Homo sapiens: one gene and its partner. The protein of the gene in region 1 interacts with the protein of each later gene in a pairwise test. Each region holds a gene or a part of one and is shown on either strand. Other genes may lie near its edges.

Region 1 (3,500 bases):
ATAAATGTAAGGTATTATTATTTGTGCTTGTTTAAATGGAGCCTGGAGTCAAAGATTTGTGTATTTGGTGTATCTCAGTAATTCTGTCTGCATTGTTTGCTGTTTAGATTATAAACTACTTGAGAGTGAAGCTCATGCCTTTTGGGTTGTTTTAGCTTTCATTACTGTTTGGTTTTGGGGAATTTCTAGTAAAGTATCAATACAATATTTAATAGTTGCTGTTATTCTGTAACAGTGGAATGAATTGAGAAAAGGATTCGGGCATCAGATGGATGATTGTGCTAAATGATATTTTCAAAAACCTAATCCTGCTGTTCTATAATGCTAAAATAGAAGAGTTTGAGCAAAATTGTCCCAGCCTTAGTGGAACAAAAAGCATTTTCTTTTTGGCATGAATTCTGTGGTTTAGGTACAAAATAAAGCATTTTATATGTCAAAAGCTTCAGTCTCCATGATCCAGTATCTCATCTAGTATCTCTGTTAAACATGTGTAAAAAGAAAAGTGACCAACAGAAGCAGTGTTTTTAAAAGCGCTAGATATCCCTTCTTAAACTCCTACTCTGCTATAATCTAGAGAAGCAGTTTGCTGTAAACTAAACCATTTGATCTTCTAATTATGACCGTTGTCCTGTACTAAAAGTGATTTCTTTTTTCAAAGGTACGTCAGCCTGTCATATGCATCAACAACCATGTATTTTGTTCGATTTGTATTGATTTGTGGTTGAAGAATAATAGCCAGTGTCCAGCTTGCAGAGTCCCCATCACTCCTGAAAATCCTTGCAAAGAAATTATAGGTAAGGGCCTGTTTTATATATGCATAGGAATAGGTTTGAAACAATCTCCAAATAATTTATATTTCGAGGAAGACTGAAATAGGCTATTTTCAGTGATGCTATTTGGCCAACATAATACTGAGTGGTTGAGTAATTTGTGTAATGTATATGTGGAGCAACTGGGGCACAAGGCACTGAGAGGTGCTAAGAGGAATAACCCTGAGAGCCTCACGGAACTTACATTTTCATAGCAACTGAACCAAAAGAAAAGCAGCAAGTGCTAAGGGCCCCAAAAAAGCCCAGAGAGTTCAGGCAAGAAACTTCAGCTAAGAACACCGAGAAGGGCTTCATAAAGTAGGTGGCCTTTAAGCTGGACATTTAAATTTAAGGATGGATAACATTTCAACGGTGAAAATTAAGGAGGGCATTTCCTGCAGGGAGAATAGCATGAACTAAAAAGTTTAGATACAGGAAAACCCAGAGCATGTTTTTAGAAATGATCAGTAGTCTACTTTGGGTCCGACTACTGAGATAAGACAAAAGGTAAATTGAGACTTTAGTGCAGAGAACCTTGAATGACAGCTAAATCAGGGACTTGCTCTAGGACTAAGAAGAAGGGTGAATTGGGCATGATGGTTTTGAGCAAGGGAGTGGTATGATCCAAAATGTGCTTTACAAATATTACTTGTGGTAATACATAGGTTGGACTATAGGAGTAGACAGGATGTGAGTAGGTCTGGTAGGAGGCTTTTGCCTAGGTGATAGAAAATGTAAGTTTGGATTAAGGGTGAAAACAAATTCTATGTCACATTAATATTGGTGGGGTGGGGGAGGAGTAAAGCTTGAACTAGAGGATCCTTGAAAAGGAGAACTTCTAAAGAGCCTTTTTAGAGTTTGGTTTTTATTCTACTCATATAAGTTATTTATTTTAGGTTGCAAAAATTAAAATGATTTCTACTTGTTTTTGCTATAGGAAAAATTGAAAGTGAATCTACAATTAGCCAAGTATAGAAAACATTTTTCAGAAAACTTAAGAAGTCATTGTAATAGTCCCAAGTTAGGGAAAATGGACTTAAATAAGATTTTTTTTTTTTGAGACAGAGTTTCGCTCTTGTTACCCAGGCTGGAGTGCAGTGGCGCGTTCTCGGCTCACCGCAACCTCTGCCTCCTGGGTTCAAGCGATTCTCCTCCCTCAGCCTCCTAAGTAGCTGGGATTATATGCATGCATCACCACGCCCGGCTAATTTTGTATTTTTATTAGAGACGGGGTTTCTCCATGTTGGTCAGGCTGGTCTCGAACTCCCGACCTCAGGTGATCTGCCCGCCTTGGCCTCCCAAAGTGCTGGGAATTACAGGCGTGAGCCACCGTGCCCAGCCAAGATTTTTACAAAGGAAATAGAAAGGAATATATATGCTACAGAGCAAAAGAAGAACTAGTAGGACTTAGGAAATAAGAGATCTGAAGGCGCAATCAGAGTTGGCTCTTGGTACCTGGGTGAAGTCTGGTAGAGGACTGGTTCTCTGCTGTGTTGCATGCTACGGGGTTAACCTCTATCTGTTTTTTTTTACCTGCTGAATTTCACCAAGGAGTCAAGTCTTTTCTTGCAGAATATGAGCTTTGATGATTTGAATATTTTCCCCCAGCTTTTCTTCTCATCCCATATCCTACCTTTATTCATTCATACCTAAGTGATATTTCATAAATTCTCTCAAGGAAAATAGTTCATCCATTTTTGCATTTGGATAGAACATCCTGAAAAAGAACACCTGTAAAATACCTTTGCTATTATTATAATGCTAAAAAATACAAAGAAGGTAACCAGAGCATCAGTGAAGAGCTCTCAGGAAGAATTCATTGTGAGTGCATTTGTAACAAGTCATGACATAGAGTTAATGCCATGACTTACAGTCCATTGTAACTAGCCTGTTAGAATCCGTGAAAAGACACATTAATCTATATACATAGGTATATAGCAGTAATACTTTTTTTTTTTTTGAGACGGAGTCTCGCTTTGTCGCCCAGGCTGGAGTGCAGTGGCGCAATCTCGGCTCACTGCAAGCTCCGCCTCCCGGGTTCATGCCATTCTCCTGCCTTAGCCTCCTGAGTAGCTGGGACTACAGGCGCCAGCCACCACGCCCGGCTAATTTTGTTTGTTTGCATTTTTAGTAGAGACAGGGTTTCACTGTAGCCAGGATGGTCTCTATCTCCTGGCCTCGTGATCCGCCCGCCTCGGCCTCCCAAAGTGCTGGGATTACAGGCGTGAGCCACTGCACCCAGCCAGTAATACATTTTTATATAATCTCTTGGTTAAATGTAAATGTAATAATTGGTTTTATTATTTAAATATAGTCTAGTTTTCAGAATTTGAAGTAGTCCAAATGTGATAATTACAGCCCTTTCCTCCACTGAGTTTGCTGTGATAAGATATGTAGATATGTAAATACAATATGATGTGTTACTGAAGGTATTTCTTATGGTGTTATTTGATATATTTTTTTTTCCTCAAGATTAGGGTAGAGAAAAGGCCTAGATGTAAGCCCCAAGTGTGTATGTAAGGGGAAGGGTAGATGTGAAGCTGGGAAGCTATATAAAACAATATGAAAAAGGATCATTTTCATTCTTCCCGAATCAGAATGAAAAATTAGGATTTTTTTTTTTTTCCCTACAGGAGGAACAAGTGAAAGTGAACCTATGCTAAGCCATACGGTCAGGAAGCATCTTCGGAA
Region 2 (3,263 bases), on another chromosome or scaffold:
GAATTGCACTTTGGTCCTGGAGCCAGTTTCATTATGTTACCTGAGGTCACTCTTATTTGTAAGAGAAGAATAAGATTATTTTCTACTTACTATCTTGTATAGATATATGGTATATATGGAGTACTATTACAACCTTGGGAGAAGGATGGTCTATAAATCCTTTTAGTTATGAATTTTCATTATATGGTATTACCCAATTACCTATAAAGTATGTTATGACACCTGGCATGGTGCAAAGCAGGACTTCCAGTGCGATGTGAGGTGGCAGGCTAAGGAGGAAACGATGTGTCGATGTTGCCTTCTGTTCCTTTGATGGGAATTAAAAGGGAATCATGAGAACTCTCATTCTGCAGTGCCTCTTCCTGTCCAGGGTCCTGCTATGAGGTGTCATCCTCTTGGGCAGAGGAAAAAAGCGCCTTTTGGATAAGGGAGAATTTAATTGTCTAAATCAATAGTTACTAACTGGCCATCTATGGTTTAGGTGTAGCCTGCCAACGTGTTTTATTGGGACCCCACAGTTAAAAATATATAGTACTGGTATTTAAAAATAACCATATTTTGGCTTCTTTTGAAAAATTGGAAGATCTGGCTACCCCAGGCCCATCATCCTAGTGGCAACATGTGGCTTGGCGCTGACGGCCCACCTAAAGGAGCATGCCCTCTCCAGAGGGTCGCAGTCACTTCTCTCCAGTGCTTTACACCTGGCCCACTGCACATGGTCACCTGAAGTTGGGAAAGTTTCTTGTCACGGTCACTCTACAGCTTCCTTATAGAACTGTCCATCTTCAGCTTGAAAAGTTCTCAAATTATTATTGGAATTCTACAACTTGTTTTCTGTTGACTGAGAATTTTTCATTTTTAGAGGTGTTTAGAAATCAAAAAGTGAGACTGGAAAAGATGTCATGTCAGTACAGGCACAGATACATCAGAACCCAGTTAAATAGGTCATTAAGTATTAGATTTTTATATACTGGACTCATGAACACAAACAGCGGTGCACAGGAATATGTTACCCTTGGCATTTATGGATTCATTATTCTCGCAGTTTAATTTAGCTCGATATTATGTGTTCTGTGTTATGGGGTTTTGTTTGTTTTGTTTTGCTGGCTGCCAGAGCTCATCTCTAATAACTTTTCTCTGGTTTTTAATATTTACTGAGGGAGTAGTCTCATGTCACCTTTGCTTCCTCTTGAAACTTAGAGCTGAGCAGCTAGTTTGTATGGTCCTGCAGGCTGAATCAAGACCCTGTTAATCTGACTTATAATAGATGAGGTTAAACAGTAGATGGAGAATCAAGTAATTCTCCTGCCTCATCCTCCTCAGTAGCTGGGATTATAGGCATGTGCCGCCACACCCAGCTAATTTTTCTTTTCTTTTCTTTTTTTTTTTTAGTAGAGACGGGGTTTTGCCATGTTGGCCAGGCTGGTGTCAAACTCCTGACCTCAAATAATCCGCCCGCCTCGGCCTCCCAAAGTGGTGGGATTACAGACATGAGCCATCGTGCCTGGCCTCCAGCAAGGTCTTTATGATCTATATCTTGAGTCGACCTCCTATCTCATTCTGTAACCTAGAATGCCTAACTGTCTGGGAATGCAGCCCAGTAGGTTTCAGCCTCATTGTCCCCAGCCCCTATTCAAGATGCAGTTGCTCTAGTTCAAATGCCTCTGACAGTTGTGCTTCACCAAACCTAGAGAATGAACAAAGCGAAGGACCTGGAGTTCAAGAATGGAGGGATCCAACTCCAAGGCAGGAAGCAGGTCCAGAAAGCAGGCAGGGCAGCAGCAACAGGGAAGAACAGCTTATCTGATGACTGGCTGGGTGGGAAGCACAACTGAGAGGACTTGAAGGACTTTGGAAGACTAAGTTAGCTACAAAGAAAACTAAGTATTATACCAAAAAAACTTATCCGGGCGTGGTGACAGGCGCCTGTAGTCCCAGCTACTCGGGAGGCTGAGGCAGGAGAATGGCGTGAACCCGGAAGGCAGAGCTTGCAGTGAGTCCAGATTGCGCCACTGCGCTCCAGCCTGGGCGACAGAGCAAGACTCCGTCTCAGAAAAAAAAAAAAAAGAAAAGAAAAGAAAAGAAAAGAAAAGAAAACTAAGTATTATAAATGGAAAAAAAAAATAAGTCCGTTATATCCAGGAAAAACAAAAGCTTTATTGGAAAAGAAAAGGAAGCCAGGCGTGGTGGCTCATGCCTGTAATCCTAGCACTTTGGGAGTCCAAGGCAGGCAGATCACGAGGTCAGGAGATCGAGACCATCCTGGCCAACAAGGTAAAACCCCGTCTCTACTAAAAATACAAAAAATTAGCTGGGCGTGGTGTCACACGCCTGTAGTCCCAACTACTCGGGAGGCTGAGGCAGGAGAATTGCTTGAACTGGGGAGGCAGAGGTTGCAGTGAGCTGAGATCACGCCACTGCACTCCAGCCTGGGCGACAGAATGAGACTCCATCTCAAAAAAAAAAAAAAAAGAAAAGGAAAATAATGAAATACTACTCGAAGTAGTGGACAAGATATATATAATTGTAAGTCACATAATAACTTAAATCCTGATACTAATTTAACCAAAATGGTAGTAAATTATTTGGGAAAACTTGTGGGAATGGTAGGAGATGTATCACAGAGCTGGATCTCATCTATTAAAGAGGAAATCAATAGCTGATATCTTAATTGATCCATAATAAAACATATTCGGTTAACAGTCTTTTTCTTAAAACTTCAGTGGAAGAACGCAGTTTTGTTGAAAAGCACAGATGGCCGTCGAATATGTACTTGAAGCAGCTTGCGGAATACAGGAAGTATATTCACTCCCGGAAATGTCGTTGCTTAGTAATGTAACCTGGAGCTTTTATACACTACATTTCTTTTTTATTATTATGAAGAATGGGATACCTCCAGGTTCCAGTAAAATTCTTCTGACCGAAACCAATGTGGGTGTTAGAAAAATTACCATATAGCTTAATATGTTTATTAGTTCTCTTTGGAAAAAAACTACCACTGTGGTCTTAAAAGGGAACAAAATATACCATAGGCTAAAACTAAGGCTTTCACTCTAGAATGCAAAGCTGTTTTGCAGCTGTTTTCCCTTAAAGATGTCCTGTTGCTTTAGTGATATTTAGACCCCTCTCAGTTAAGAAATGCTTAGATTAAAAAAAAAAAATTACGTAGGATTAATACAGAAATTTAATCATGTCTGATTAATTGCTCTATTAAAATAAGGGGCATTTAAAGACCCAGCATAACCATTTGTATAATGAGAAAT

What was found. Proteins that work in one complex are often made in the same cells at the same time.
Region 2: the proteins of OBI1 (region 1) and RHOBTB3 interact in a two-hybrid assay, tested with the Homo sapiens proteins (one large-scale study listed by IntAct).

What each region holds. Positions count from the first base shown.
Region 1 is NC_000013.11:78,642,156-78,645,655, reverse strand, and holds part of OBI1 (ORC ubiquitin ligase 1), read left to right. Parts: intron 1-658; coding exon 659-794; intron 795-2,103; exon of another isoform or gene 2,104-2,630; intron 2,631-3,442; coding exon 3,443-3,500. UniProt on the Homo sapiens protein: E3 ubiquitin ligase essential for DNA replication origin activation during S phase.
Region 2 is NC_000005.10:95,790,336-95,793,598, forward strand, and holds part of RHOBTB3 (rho-related BTB domain-containing protein 3), read left to right. Parts: intron 1-2,723; coding exon 2,724-2,839; 3' UTR 2,840-3,263. UniProt on the Homo sapiens protein: Rab9-regulated ATPase required for endosome to Golgi transport. Involved in transport vesicle docking at the Golgi complex, possibly by participating in release M6PRBP1/TIP47 from vesicles to permit their efficient docking and fusion at the Golgi.